Linked DNA regions of Homo sapiens. The protein of the gene in region 1 binds, or shares a complex with, the protein of each later gene. Each region holds a gene or a part of one and is shown on either strand. Other genes may lie near its edges. The genes, in order: CCT3 and PDCL3. A codon is read from its position in the direction of its gene.

Evidence for each region.
Region 2: the proteins of CCT3 (region 1) and PDCL3 are in contact, whole or in part, in a cryo-EM structure (PDB 8I6J), measured with the Homo sapiens proteins. Residues at the interface, in NP_005989.3 of Homo sapiens: Met47 (codon at 6,581), Pro53 (codon at 6,471), Met54 (codon at 6,468), Val58 (codon at 6,456), Met59 (codon at 6,453), Thr60 (codon at 6,450), Asn61 (codon at 6,447), Asp62 (codon at 6,444), Ala65 (codon at 6,435), Arg68 (codon at 6,426), Glu69 (codon at 6,423), Arg167, Ile258, Glu261, Phe264, Leu268, Gln269, Glu271, Ser297, Asp298, Leu299, His302, Ser380, Glu382, Ile383, Arg389; in NP_076970.1 of Homo sapiens: Glu66, Ala70, Met73, Tyr74, Arg75, Arg77, Arg78, Trp82, Leu182, Pro212, Lys213, Ile216, Glu217, Asp218, Val219, Arg226, Leu229, Met230.

The regions. Positions count from the first base shown.
Region 1 is NC_000001.11:156,328,293-156,335,292, forward strand, and holds part of CCT3 (T-complex protein 1 subunit gamma), read right to left. Parts: intron 6,627-7,000; coding exon 6,576-6,626; intron 6,484-6,575; coding exon 6,421-6,483; intron 5,352-6,420; coding exon 5,255-5,351; intron 1-5,254. UniProt on the Homo sapiens protein: Component of the chaperonin-containing T-complex (TRiC), a molecular chaperone complex that assists the folding of actin, tubulin and other proteins upon ATP hydrolysis.
Region 2 is NC_000002.12:100,558,767-100,565,992, forward strand, and holds the start of PDCL3 (phosducin-like protein 3), read left to right. Parts: upstream 1-4,226; 5' UTR 4,227-4,301; coding exon 4,302-4,307; intron 4,308-4,538; exon of another isoform or gene 4,539-4,743; intron 4,744-7,226. UniProt on the Homo sapiens protein: Acts as a chaperone for the angiogenic VEGF receptor KDR/VEGFR2, increasing its abundance by inhibiting its ubiquitination and degradation.

The DNA.
Region 1 (7,000 bases):
CCGGCTGCCCCTACTGGGAAGTGAGGAGCCCCTCTGCCCGGCCACGACCCTGTCTGGGAGGTCTACCCAACAGCTCATTGAGAACGGGCCATGATGACAATGGCGGTTTTGTGGAATAGAAAGGCGGGAAAGGTGGGGAAAAGATTGAGAAATCGGATGGTTGCCGTGTCTGTGTAGAGAGAAGTAGACATGGGAGACTTTTCATTTTGTTCTGTACTAAGAAAAATTCTTCTGCCTTGGGATCCTGTTGATCTGTGACCTTACCCCCAACCCTGTGCTCTCTGAAACATGTGCTGTGTCCACTCAGGGTTAAATGGATTAAGGGCGGTGCAAGATGTGCTTTGTTAAACAGATGCTTGAAGGCAGCATGCTCGTTAAGAGTCATCACCACTCCCTAATCTTAAGTACCCAGGGACACAAACACTGCGGAAGGCAGCAGGGTCCTCTGCCCAGGAAAACCAGAGACCTTTGTTCATTTGTTTATCTGCTGACCTTCCCTCCACTATTGTCCTATGACCCTGCCAAATCCCCCTCTGCGAGAAACACCCAAGAATGATCAATAAAAATAAAAATAAAAAAAAAAAATGTACATGTTATTCATTAGTATGTGCTCCAGTGTTTGAATTCAATATATTTTGTTTCAATTCCAAAGTGTCAATCATGTATATTGAAAGAAAAATAATCAAAAAATACAGTCACGTACCATTTAATGTTTCAGCCAACAATGGACCACATATATGACAGTGGTCCCATAAGATTATAATATCATATTTTTACTGTACCTTTTCTATGTTTAGCTATGCTTATTATACAAATACTTACCACTGTATTATAACTGTATTCAGTACAGTAACATGTTATACAGCTTTGTGGCCTAGAAGCAATAGGCTATACCATACAGCCTAAGTGTATAGTAGGCCGTACCACCCAGGTTTGTAAAGTACACTCCATGAAGTCTGCATAGTAATGAGACTGCCTAATAACGCATTTGTCTCAGAACGTATCCCCATCTTTTTTTTTTTTTTTTTTTTTGAGACGGAATCTTGCTCTGTTGCCAGGCTGGAGTGCAGTGGTGTGATCTGGGCTCACTGCAACCTCCACCTCTCAGGTTCAAGTGATACTCCTGACTCAGCCTCCCGAGTAGCTGGGACTACAGGCACGCGCCACCATGCCCAGCTCATTTTTTGTATTTTTAGCAAAGACAGGGTTTCACCATGTTGGTCAGGATGGTCTCGAATTCCAGACCTCGTGATCTGCCCACCTTGGCCTCCCAAAGTGCTGGGATTACAGGCGTAAGCCACCGCGCCCAGCCCATATCCCCATCATTAAGCAGCATATTATTGCATTTTAAAAGATGGCTGAGTGGCTGGGCATGGTGGCTCACGTCTGTAATCCCAGCACTTTGGGAGGCTGAGGTGGGAGGATCACCTGAAGTCAGGAGTTTGAGACCAGCCTGACCAACATGGTGAAACCCCGTCTCTACTAAAAATACAAAAATTAGCTGGGCATGGTGGCGGGTGCCTGTAACCCCAGCTACTTGGGAGGCTGAGGCAGGAGAATTGCTGGAACCCGGGAGGCAGAGGCTGCAGTGAGCCAAGATCGCGCCAGTGCACTCCAGCCTGGGCGACAGTATGAAACTCTGTCTCGAAAAAAAAAAAAGCAAAAGCCTGAGTAAGATAACTTAGAAAAGGATATACCCTATTAAGAAATTATTAGAACTGTAACAGAAGATTTCTTTAGGGCTGGTCAAGTGTTCTTTTTCACATTCTTAAATCCATCTACATCTAAGATACTTAGACTCATGGATACTTATTCTACCCACTATCTCTAGATGATTCAACTGAAATTATCAGCTAGAAAATTTTCTCTGATATGTAAAGCTCATGTTCTATTACAAAAAATAAAAAATAAAAAAGAGTATGAAATCTTTCCTCCCTCCTCTTTCATCCTTCCAGGTTTTCCCTAAAAGTCCATAACTGGCTATGTTCTGAATCCTCAAAAGAACTGGATCTAAAGATGGACTAGTTGACTGTGACTCTCAAGGACATTTTTATTCAACTCACCATTCTTAAAATGCAGTACAATAGGGCCAGGCGCTATGGCTCACGCCTGTAATCCCAGCACTTTGGGAGGCTGAGGTGGGTGGATGACCTGAGGTTGATAGAGTTTGACACCAGCCTGGCCAACATGGTGAAACCACACCTCTACTAAAAATACAAAAATTAGCTGGGCTTGGTGGCATGCGCCTATAATCCCAGCTACTCAGGAGGCTGAGGCATGAGAATCACGAGCCCAGGAGGCAGAGGTTGCAGTGAGCCAAGATGATGCCACTGCACTTTAGCTTGGGCTACAGAGTGAGACTCTGTCACACAAAAATAAATAAATAAAATTTAAAAATAAAAATAAATAAATAAGGCCAGGCGTGGTGAGACCAGCCTGGCCAACATGGTGAAACCCCATCTCTACTAAAAATTAGCCAGGCACAGTGGCGGGCACCTGTAATCCCAGCTAACAGAAAGGCTGAGACAGGAGAATCACTTGAACCCCAGGGGTGGAGGCTGCAGTGAGCCAAGACTGTGCCACTGCACTCCAGCCTGGGCGACTCTGTCTCAAAGATAAATAAATAAATAAATATAATTTGAAAAATTAGCTAGGCTTAGCCAGGCACGGTGGCTCACAGCCTGTAATCCCAGCACTTTGGGAGGCTGAGGCAGGTGGATCATGAGGTCAGGAGTTCAAGACCAGCCTGGCCAATATGGTGAAATCCCGTCACTATTAAAAATATAAAAATTAGCCGGGCGCGGTGGTGGGCATCTGTAATCCCATCTACTCAGGAGGCTGAGGCAGGAGAATCGCTTGAACCCGGGATCAGAGGCTGCAGTGAGCTGAGATTGCACAACTGTACTCTAGCCTGGGTGACACAGCAAGACTCCATCTCAAAAAGAAAAACACTTTGGGAGGCTGAGGCAGGAGATTGCTTGAGCCCAGGAGTTTGAGGCAAGCCTGGGCAACATGAGACCCCATCTCTACGAAAAATAAATAATAATAATTTTGATTAAGAACTTTATTTTTAGGTATGTGGGCCAACACTATAAATTAGCATCCCTTGGCTGGGCGCAGTGGCTCACACCTGTAATCCCAGTACTTTGGAAGGCCGAGGTTGTCAGATCACCTGAGCTCAGGAGTTCGAGATCAGTCTGGCCAACATGGTGAAACCCTGTCTCTACTAAAAACACAAAAATCAGCCAGGCGTGGTGGCGCATGCCTGTAATCCCAGCTACTAGGGAAGCTGAGGCAGGAGAATCACTTGAACCTGGGAGGTGGAGGTTGCAGTGAACTGAGATTGCGCCAATGCACTGCAGCCTGGGCGACAGAGCAAGACTCTGTCTCAAAAACATAAATAAATAAATAAATAAATAAATAAAATTAGCATCCCTTATTTTAAAATAGTCCCTCTCAGGCCAGGCGTGGTGGCTTACACCTATTATCCCAGCACTTTGGGAGGCAGAGGCGGGCAGATCACCTGAGGTCGGGAGTTCGACACCAGCCTGACCAACATGAAGAAACGCCGTCTCTACTAAAAATACAAATTAGCCAGGCATGGTGGCCCATGCCTGTAATCCCAGCTACTTGGAAGGCTAAGGCAGGAGAATCGCTCGAACCCGAGAGGGGGAGGTTGCGGCGAGCCGAGATTGTGCCATTGCACTCCAGCCTGGGCAACAAGAGTGAGACTCCATCTCAAAAAAAAAAAGAGACATGGTCTTGCTTTGTTGCCCAGGTTGGAGTGCAGTGGCACAAACACGGCTCACTGCAGCCTCAACCTCCTGCCTCACCGACCTCAGCCTCCCCAGTAGCTGGGACTACAGGTGTGTGCCACCACATCCAGCCGATTTTTATTTTTTACAGTGACGCGGTCTCTCCATGTTGCCCAGGCTGGTCTCGAACTCCTGACCTCGTGATCTGCCCACCTTGGCCTCCCAAAGTGCTGGGATTACAGGTGTCAGCCACCACACTTGGTTGCAATCAGATTTTTTAAAACCAGTGTTTCTAGTATAAAAATTTTACTATCATCTTGACATTTACACAATAAAGGCAATAGGCCAAGATTTGAAAAATAATTCTTTATGATCCTATAGGAAGTAGAAAGATTAGTCTTTAAACTTACATAGCCCAGGGTCATTATCCTAAAGATTTCATTTCTTATTATTTGTAACCCCAAAATCAACATTCATGACACTTTCATAGTCATTCATGGAAATTCACAGAATGGCAAAAAATTTGAGTCACCCAATGACATTCCTAGGTGAGGTTAAACAAGGCCTTTAGCTCTCACACTGTAAAAAAAAGTGTCCTTTATGCAGTATATTTAAGGTTATGTTTTTCACATTTTTCTTGATGATTTCGGTATTTATAATGGCTCACAAGTGTAGTGCTTAAGTGCTAGCTAATGCTTCTATGTGCAAGAAGGCTGTGATGTGCCTTACAGAGAAAATACGTTAGGTGAGCTTTGTCCAGGCATGAGTTATATTGCTATGGGCTATGAGTTCAATGCTAATAAATCAACTATATATATTAAATGGGTGTCTTGAAGACAAACACATACAATAAGGTATATATTTATCAGTTGATGAAAGTGTGACCAGAGGCTTATAGGTATCTAACCCTGTATTTCCTATAGAAGCAATGATTTATTATTTGCCAATTCAGTGTTTGTGGTGACTTTATAGGCGTGGTGGCTCACGCCTGTAATCCCAGCACTTTGGGAGGCCAAGGAGGGCGGATCACGAGGTTAAGAGATCGAGACCATCTGGCCAACATGGTGAAACCCTGTCTCTACTAAAAATACAAAAATTAGCTGGGCGTGGTGGCACGTGACTATAGTCCCAGCTACTTGGGAGGCTGAGGCAGGAGAATCGCTTGAACCTGGGAGGCAGAGGTTGCAGTGAGCCAAGATCGCACCACCACACTCCAGCATGGTGACAGAGTGAGACTCTGTCTCAAAAAAAAAAAAAAAAAAGAATATTATAACTTACAGTGAATAAAGAGAATTAACTATTAGTTTATCAGCCAGATTTGCATAGCTCACCCTATTCATATAAATGTTTTATACCCAACTGGAGAGAATACATAGAAAATAACCAATAAGCTATTTAAATATCTGTAATTAGTGGATCTGTAACAGAATTTCCTTCTTAAAATATGACACAGGTGTTACTTCTAATTTTTCCTTATCAACCTCTTATTCTCCTCTTACCAAGAATAATTACTGATGTGGTCCCATCTCCAACCTCTTCATCCTGGGTCCGGCTAATTTCGATCATGGACTTGGCCGCTGGATGCTGGACTTGAATCTAAAAAGGTAGATCACTAGTGAATTCACACTATTCAAAGACCTCTGAACTCATGAAGCTTGGCCCTAACTCTTGGGCTTCTTGCTTCTATACGTACTTACTTTCCCTTTAATGTTTTACCATATCTTGAAAGATTAAAATTGGCACCCCAAATAGCTTAAGTAAACCACTTTCCAAATCCTTTTTGGGAAAAAGTGTATTACATGAACTCAACTATTAAAGCTGCCAGAGGACAGAACGATATCTTTTAGCTTATTTACTGGAAGCACTATTGTGGCTGAATTGTGTTCTTCAGTAAGATACGTTGAAGCCAGCTGGGCATGGTGGCTCACATCTGTAATCTCAGCACTTTGGGAGGCGGAGGCAGGTGGATCGCCTGAGGTCAGGAGTTCGAGACCAGCCTGGCCAACATGGGGAAACCCTGTCTCTACTAAAAGTACAAAAATTAAGCCGGGTGTGGTGGCATGCGCTTGTAATTCCAGCTAATCAGGAGGCTGAGGCAGAAGAATTGCTTGAACCCATGAGGCGGAGGCTGCAGTGAGCCGAGATCACATCACTGTACTCCAGCCTGGGTGACAAGAGCGAGACTCCGTCTCAAAAAAAAAAAAAAAAAAGATATGTTGAAGTCATAACTCCCAGAACCTGTGAATTTTACTTTATTTTAAAATAGGGTTTTTGCAGATGTAACCAAGTTAGATAAGGTCATTCTGAATTAGGGTGGGCTCGAAGACCAATCACCGGTGTCCTTGTGTAAGAGACACACAAGGGGAATAACATGAAGACCAAGGCAGAGACCAAGTTCATGCCAAAGAAAGCCAGCAACCATCAGAAGGGAGAAGCGGAGTTCTTCCCTAGAGACTTCAGAAGGAGCATGGCCCTACTGACGCCTTTATTTCAGACTTCTAGCTTCATTCTATAAGATAATAAATTTCTGTTGTTGAAGCCAACCAGTTTCTGGTAATCTGTTATAGCAGCCCTAAAAAACTAATCAGAGCCTGTATCTTAACAGGTCCTTTATGTTTACAGAACTGTCAGAAAGCAAAAAAACAAAACCAAAAACAAAACACACCTCTCGAAGAATGGCATTGCCATCATTGGTCATCACAATGCCTCCCATTGGGTCCAAAAGCATCTAAGATGAAAGCAAAAGTTATATTTAAAGTGTCCTAGATAACAGGAAGAAAAAAATTGTAGCCTAAGAGTTTTAGGAAGAGATAAGCCTACCTTCATCATGGACTTGGGTCCCAAACATGTTCGGATGATATCTGCAATAGTCTAATGGAAAGGGAACATAAAATACGCAAGCACAAATCAGAGGACAGTGTGAGAAATGTTGGAGTAATAGGGAAAAGGGGCATGAACAACCCACAGAGTCAGTGTTTTATTTTATTTTAATTTTATTTTATTTTTAGATATGGGGTCTCACCATGTTGCTCGGGCTGGTCTCAAACCCCTGGGCCCAAGTGATCCACCTGCCTCAGCCTCCCAAAGTGTTGGGATTAGAGGCGTGAGCCATTCCGCCCAGCCAGAGTCAGTGTTTTTAATGACACCCCTAAAGCATGGTTAGCCATCACTTTAGACATAGCATGCCACTTTAGATATAGGATGTGGCTAGCTCTGTTGTTTTTCTCCCCTTGGGAATGCTTTCA
Region 2 (7,226 bases), on another chromosome or scaffold:
CCTTGGCCTCCCAAAGTGTTGGGATTACAGGCATGAGCCACTGCGCCCGGCTGACATAAATGTATTTTATTTCACCTTTTATTTTACACAAAAGGCAGCGTGCTTATATACATTATTTCTATACAAAAAAACTAAGTAGTAGAATCATTGTTTTAATTTGATTTCTTTTAGACTTTTAGTAATCAAAGTTTTTTTCCATTTTTAGGTTATAAAGAAATTATGCCATGTGTTCTCCTAGTACTTTTAGTTTTTACTTTTTATTCTGATATACACTGTGAAGTATGTATCCAATTTTATCTATTTCCAAATGGTTATCCAGTTGTCCGAACACCATTTATTTAAAGTCCATCCCAGCAGATTGAGATACCGTCTCGTCTAAGCATACACTAATGTTTATATGTACTGGGCTCTATTTCTGGGCTTGTTCTGAACTTGCTGTGCTGCTCTCTTGATCTCTTTGTCTATTTATGTACTAACACCACATTGTTTTAAGGTTTAGTAGGGCTAGCTCTCCCTTCTGCCTTGTGCTATTCTTGATAAAAATTTTGGAGTCAAGCTGCCTAGCCTCAAAAAATAATTTGTTGGATTTTTGACATCGTGTTAAATTTTACATATTGACTTGGAGAAAATTGATATCTCTATGATGTTGAGTCATACTATCCAAAAATAAAGGATGTTTGTCCATTTGTTCTAGTCTACTTTTGTATCTTCAGAAAAGTTTTTAAATTTAACTAATGCAGGTTTTGCCTACTTCTTTGTTTCCAAGAGCTTTTTCTTTTCTGTTGTTATTGTAATTGGAGTCCATTTTGTCTTGTAGTTTGTTATTGTAAACACGGATGAAGACTATTTTTGTGTTAATTTTATATCCTGCTCCTATACTGAATTATCATATTGTTAGTATGAATTTAAGACTCGGTTCCGCTGAGTTTTCCAGGATGCTATATCATCCACAAATAGAAATAGTTTATTTTTTCTAATTCGTATATCTCTGATCTTTTCTCATAAGCTGTAATTATTTTCTCCACAGCCAAGAAGGATGGAAAGATGAAAGAAGTCCCTGAGGGAGGTGAGAGGATCTGGAGCACAGGTGGAAAGAATAACAAAAGAATAATTTTGACAAAAGCAAGAGGGATGGGGCTGGGCGTGGTGGCTCACGCCTGTAATCCCAGCACTTTGGGAGGCTGAGGCTGGCAGATCACGAGGTCAGGAAATCAAGACCATCCTGGCTAACACAGTGAAACCCTGCCTCTACTAAAAATACAAAAAATTAGCCGGGCGTGGTGGCAGGCGCCTGTAGTCCCAGCTACTCGGGAGGCTGAGGCAGGAGAATCATTTGAACCCGGGAGGCGGAGCTTGCAGTGAGCCGAGACTGCGCCACTGCACTCCAGCCTGGGTGACAGAGCGAGACTCTGTCTCGGAAAAAAAAAAAAAAAAAAAAAAAAAGAAAGCCAATCACTGGGATGACAAGTATTCCCAAGGAAGAAGCCTTTAATTGGGTGCTGCAGCCGAGGAGACAAGGAGACGAGACAGGAGATCAGTCTCAAATCCATCTCCCCGACTGACTAAAACTAGGGGTTTATATAGCAGGGAAGAAATGTAACATGGTGTAAGAAAACAAGAAGAGGGAAGGGCAAGGATGCATCTGGTGAGGTCATCTGTTGAGTTTCAGTTCTTTGATACTTTTTCTGAGAGGCCTGAAGGTCCTTTCCTAAGGAAGAAACTCAGATTAAACAGATACAAGTTTCAAGCTTTAACAGCAGAAGGGTCAATGTCTATGTTTATCCAAAAACAACTGTCTGTGGGACTATTGGGCCAGATTTCATAACTACTGTCTTTCCCAATAATCTATATTATTGTTAAAACAAAACTTTAAGAATGCTTTTGTTCTTGGCTGGGCGTGGTAGCTCACACCTGTAATCCCAGCACTCTGGCTCACGCCTGTAATCCCAGCACTTTGGGATGAGGAGCTCAGGAGTTCGAGACCAGCCTGACCAAAATGGCGAAACCCTGTCTCTACTAAAAATACAAAACTTAGCCCGGCGTGGTGGTGCATGCCTGTAATCCCACGTACTTGGGAGGCTGAGGCAGGAGAATCACTTGAACCCAGGAGGGGGAGGCTGCAGTGAGCTGAGATCTTGCCATTGCACTCCAGGGTGGGGAACAAAGAGAGACTCTCAAAAAAACAAAACAAGGCCAGGTGCGGTGGCTCACACCTTTAATCCCAGCACTTTGGGAGGCCAAGGCAGGTGGATCACCTGAGGTCAGGAGTTCGAGACCAGCCTGGCTAACACAGTGAAACCCCGTCTCTACTACAAATACAAAAAAAAAAAATTAGCCAGGCGTGGTGGCGCGCACCTGTAATCCCAGCTATTCGGAAGCTGAGGCAGGAGAATCGCTTGAACCCAGGAGGTGGAAATTGCAGTGAGCCGAGATCACGCCATTGCACTCCAGCTTGGGCAACAAGAGTGAAACTCCATCTCAAAAAAAAGAAAGAAAAAAGAAAGCTTTCAGGACACCAGGCCATTTCCTGGGTCTGTTGTCTTAGGTCTGTTTGGTAAATATTCTGTGACTAAGCATGCGTAACCTTCTGGGAATACAACCCAGTAGGTCTCAGCCTCCTTTTCCCCATCCCCTATTCAGGATGGATTGGCTTTGGTTAGAATGCCTCTGACCGGATCATGTGGGGAAGAGCAACTGTAGAATAGCTGAGTCCTGGAAAACAGGCCTCAGGGAACAGCAAAGGCTGGGGATGAGGAAAGGACAAAACACCACCTGCTCTGTTGCTGTGCAGGACTGAGCAAGAAGCACAGGATCAAACTCAAAGTTAGTTCCAGTCCTGATTTTGGTGGTAAGACCCAAGGAAAATTCATTAACAAACATTGTGCTGCCAGATACATTAATAAATCCCTAAAAGGGCCTGTAATTCAGTTGAAATGAGTGAGAAAAATCTTAAGGATCCTTATAAATTAAATAAAAACTCCTTGCTCTCAAGCAATCATTTGATTCACTCTATATCAACGACTGTGCACTTTAGCATCACCTGAGGATCTTTAAGAAAGTATCTGTGCTAGGCCTCATTTCCAAGGATTTAATTTGTCTGGGGATGGAGCCCCAGGACATTCCTAGTTTTTGAGGGCTTCCAGGTGATTCTAATGCATAGCCACGGTTGGAAGCCCTGCGCCTATCTCACAGGTGTGTGGGTCTCTACTCTCTGTGTCCGCTTAGTTGCCAGGAGGCAGCAAGTTAGCCCACGTGTGCAAGATGCTTCCTTCCATACCAGGTAGGAATATTGCTCTCTTAAACTTGGAGTGTGCCTGGGCAGAAGCTCTGGAGCCCAATACCTGCATTTTACAAGTCAGATTGCTGCTTTTTGCTCAGTGCCTGTGTGCCTGCATACATGGGTCTCCTGATACTCAGGCACGGCAGATGACTTTCACCTTTGTTTTAGTGTTTTGCTCACTGCTGCATCTGCAGAGCCTAGAATGGTGCCTGGTACACAGCAGGCTCTCAATGTCTTATTAATGAGTTGCCTTTTCCAAGGCTGAAGTGATCGTGGGTGAATTCCAGAAGACCCTGCATCATTTTTATTTATTTATTTATTTAAGACGGAGTCTCGCTCTGTAACCCAGGCTGGAGTGCAGTGGAGAGATCTCAGCTCACTGCAAGCTCCGCCTCCCCCGTTCAAGCAATTCTTCTGCCTCAGCCTCCAGAGTAGCTGGGATTACAGGCAACCACCACTACGCCCGGCTAATTTTTTTGTATTTTTAGTAGAGACGGGGTTTCACCATGTTGGCCAGGCTGATCTCGAACTCCTGACCTCAAGTGATCCGCCCGCCTCGGCCTGGGATCACAGGCGTGTGCCACCGCGCCCGGCCTAGAGGCAATTTTCTATTTCTGACTTGTTAGGCTAGTCAGAGCGAGACGTCTTTACAGGTTTGGGCCGGCAGCTGGAAAAGGCACACGGCCCCGGGCTCCTCCTCCACCCAGCCCCACCCCTCCTCCGCTGAAGACCAGCCCTAATAAGGCAGCCACCAGAATTAGAACCAGGTCAAGTGCACTCCGAGCAGGACAGTAGGCAGATCCTATCTGGCGCATGCGAACGCTTCTGTGCCAGTTCCTTGAAGAGCAGGCGCAGACTCAAGGCTGTTGCTTCCGCCCTTACTCCCCGCCGCTCGTCCCTGGGCGGGGCGAAGGCTGGGCTGGGGGAAGAGGCGTGGCGGCGCTGTGCGCGTGCACAAAAGAGAGCTGAGGGGCGGGGGCGCTGCGGCACAGCTGGTTTGAGCAACTGAACTGGAAACAAGATGCAGGTGAGCTAGGACGGGTCTCGGGTCTGGGGGCTGCGGCCCGTTCCTTTGTCTCGTTAGGCCCGGGCGGGCAGTGGACGCCCGCCCTGGGGGAAGCTCCGGCGCCGCAGGCACGAGGGAGGCCCGGCGCGTCCAGGCCCTGCGCAGGCGCAGTGCGGGAGGCGGGCGTGGTCCCACCAGGACCCACGGCCTGGGCGTCCCCGCCTCGGTGTGCCGGGTCCCCCAAACCTCGTCCTCCGGGACTATGTCTTCTCGCGGTCTCTACCCACCCGGGCCTGTGAAGGTCTTGCCGGATCCCGCCTAACAAAAGTTACCTCCTCTCCTGAACTCCCCTAAGGCACACCTGGGCAGAGGTGTTAGGAAGCGGAGGGTCCGGCCTGGGGTCTTCCGCACGTAAAGCAGCGCCACAGCCGGTGTTCCTGGCTCCACTGAGAGCCAGGTGAGGGCTTAGTTACACCCTCTTCCCCCGAGCCCTGGGATCCGCTTGGGGCGTGTTCCCTATCTGACCGCTCGGGTTCCAGAGCTCCCCGCGAGGGTCCCTCTGTTTCGTCCTTTTTTTTTTTTTTATTAAAATAGGTAAAATAAATTATTTTTCTGTAGCTGCAATTTACTAGCGGAATTTGGTTAAAGCCTAAGGAGAATGAATGAAAACACCATGGAAATGGGCACTATTGTGGGTGAAAACCTATGCCAACTAAATTTTGTCACTGTCCAAAGATCCCGCAGTGGTCAGAAATTCTAATCTCTGCTTAGTGGCAGATGGAGAGGAGAGGGTGCGGGTTTTGCTGGGGAGGGAGGCATTAGGGGCTGGAGGGGAGGGCGTGTCTGCCAGGAGCCAGACACTGTTTTTTTTTTTTTTGAGACCGGGTCTTGCTCTGTTGCCCAGGCTGGAGTGCAGTGGCTCTGTCACAGCTCACTGCAACCTCGACCTCCCGGGGCTAAGCCATCCTCCCTTGTCAGCCTCCGGAGTAGCTGGGACCACAGGCGTGCACCCACCACTCTGGGCTAATTTTTTGTGCAGATGGGGTCTCCCTATGTTGCCCAGCCTCAGCCTCCCAAAGTGTTGGGATTACAGGATGAGCCACCGCACCTGGCCTAGACACTCTTAAATGGTGAAGTGGTAGCTTGAGGGCTGCCCTGGCCTCCTTTGCATTCCCTGTCCTTCAGGTCCCTTGAGGCCTTCCCTGACCACCCTGTAGAAAGGATTCTGCTCTTTTTGTTTGTTTGTTTGTTTGTTTCTTTTTGAGACAGAGTCTTGCTCTGTCGCCCAGGCTGGAGTGCAGTGGCGCGACCTCGGCTCACTGCAAGCTCCGCCTCTCCAGTTCACGCCATTCTCCTGCCTCAGCCTCCTGAGTAGCTGGGACTACAGGCGCCCGTCACCACTCCCGGGTAATTTTTTGTATTTTTAGTAGAGACAAGGTTTCACCATGTTAGCCAGAATTGTCTCGATCTCCTGACCTGGTGATCTGCCCGCCTAGGCCTTCCAAAGTGCTGGGATTATCGGCATGAGCCACCGCGCCCGGCCTCATTTTTCTTTTGATGTATCTCAGAACTGTTACACAGGGTTGGGGTTGGAGACCGATTATCCCGGTGCCCTTTTCACAGTGCTCCTGATTTCATATTCCAAAGCAAGCCTGAGCTCCATTAGCAGTGTTCTTGCCACACCATGCAAACCGGTGCTTGGGCAGCTGGGTTCTAGATCTAAGAGCCACTTTTACATCAGTCTTTGTGACAATGATCCTTTGTGATTTTGATGCTGGCTGATTTGGCCAGCCGTTCTAGCATGGCAGTGCCTCTAAATGCCGTGCCTCTCCTAGGCTTGTGAGGATTCAGGGACAAGGTACAAGAAAAAGGGCTTAGAGTGCCCTGTATTTTATGAGCTACTCTGAGACGTCTCAGCTTTTCCTCTCAGGTTTGGCCATTAGAGAATTCTGTCAGCCAAGCCTCATCTGCAGCCTGAGATCCTCAAAATGTCACAGTCTCTTTGCTCTTGGGCAGTATGCATGCCGCAGGCCGCTCTGCCTGGAAGATTATTTTCTTGATTACGGGCGTGCACCTGGCTAATTTTTGTGTTTTTAGTGGAGATGGGGTTTCACTATACTGGCCAGTCTGGTCTTTTAACTCCTGACCTCAGATGCTCCACCTGCCTTGGCCTCCCAAAGAGCTGGAATTACAGGCGTGAGCCACTCCACCCAGCCTGGAAGATTTTTTTTTTTTTTTTTGAGACAGAGTCTAGCTCTGTCGCCCAGGCTGGAGTGCAGCGGCTCGATCTCGGCTCACTGCAAGCTCCACCTCCCGGGTTCCTGCCACTCTCCTGCCTCAGCCTCCCGAGTAGCTGGGACTACAGGCGCCCGCCACCACGCCCGGCTAATTTTTTGTGTTTTTAGTAAAGACGGGGTTTCATCATGTTAGCCAGGATGCTCTCGATCTCCTGACCTTGTGATCCACCCACCTCTGCCTCCCAAAGTGCTGGGATTACAGGCGTGAGCCACCGTGCCCAGCCTGGAAGATTATTTGTAAGCCCCCAGACTCCTATCACAGATTGCTTTCCACCCTCAGACGGAATGTCACCTCCTCTGTAGGGAACATCCCTATCTACTCTGTGGAATGTGGGTCCTGGGTAATTCTCTAAAATGGCAGCCTGTTTGTCATTGCACTTGCCACAATTTTATCTCTCTATGTATAGTTTGTATATATACTTGTTTGTTGCCTGTCTCTTCCTCTTGTCTGTAACACAGGTGACTCTCGCATTCACCACTCTTCCCCATTGCCTACAATAATTTACATGTGGTAGATACTTCAGTTTTATCTGTTGAATGAATCACTCAGTCATTATTATTATTATTATTTTGAGACTGTGTCTTGCTCTGTCGCCCAGGCTGGAGTGCAGTGGCACGATCTCGGCTCACTGCAAGCTCCGCC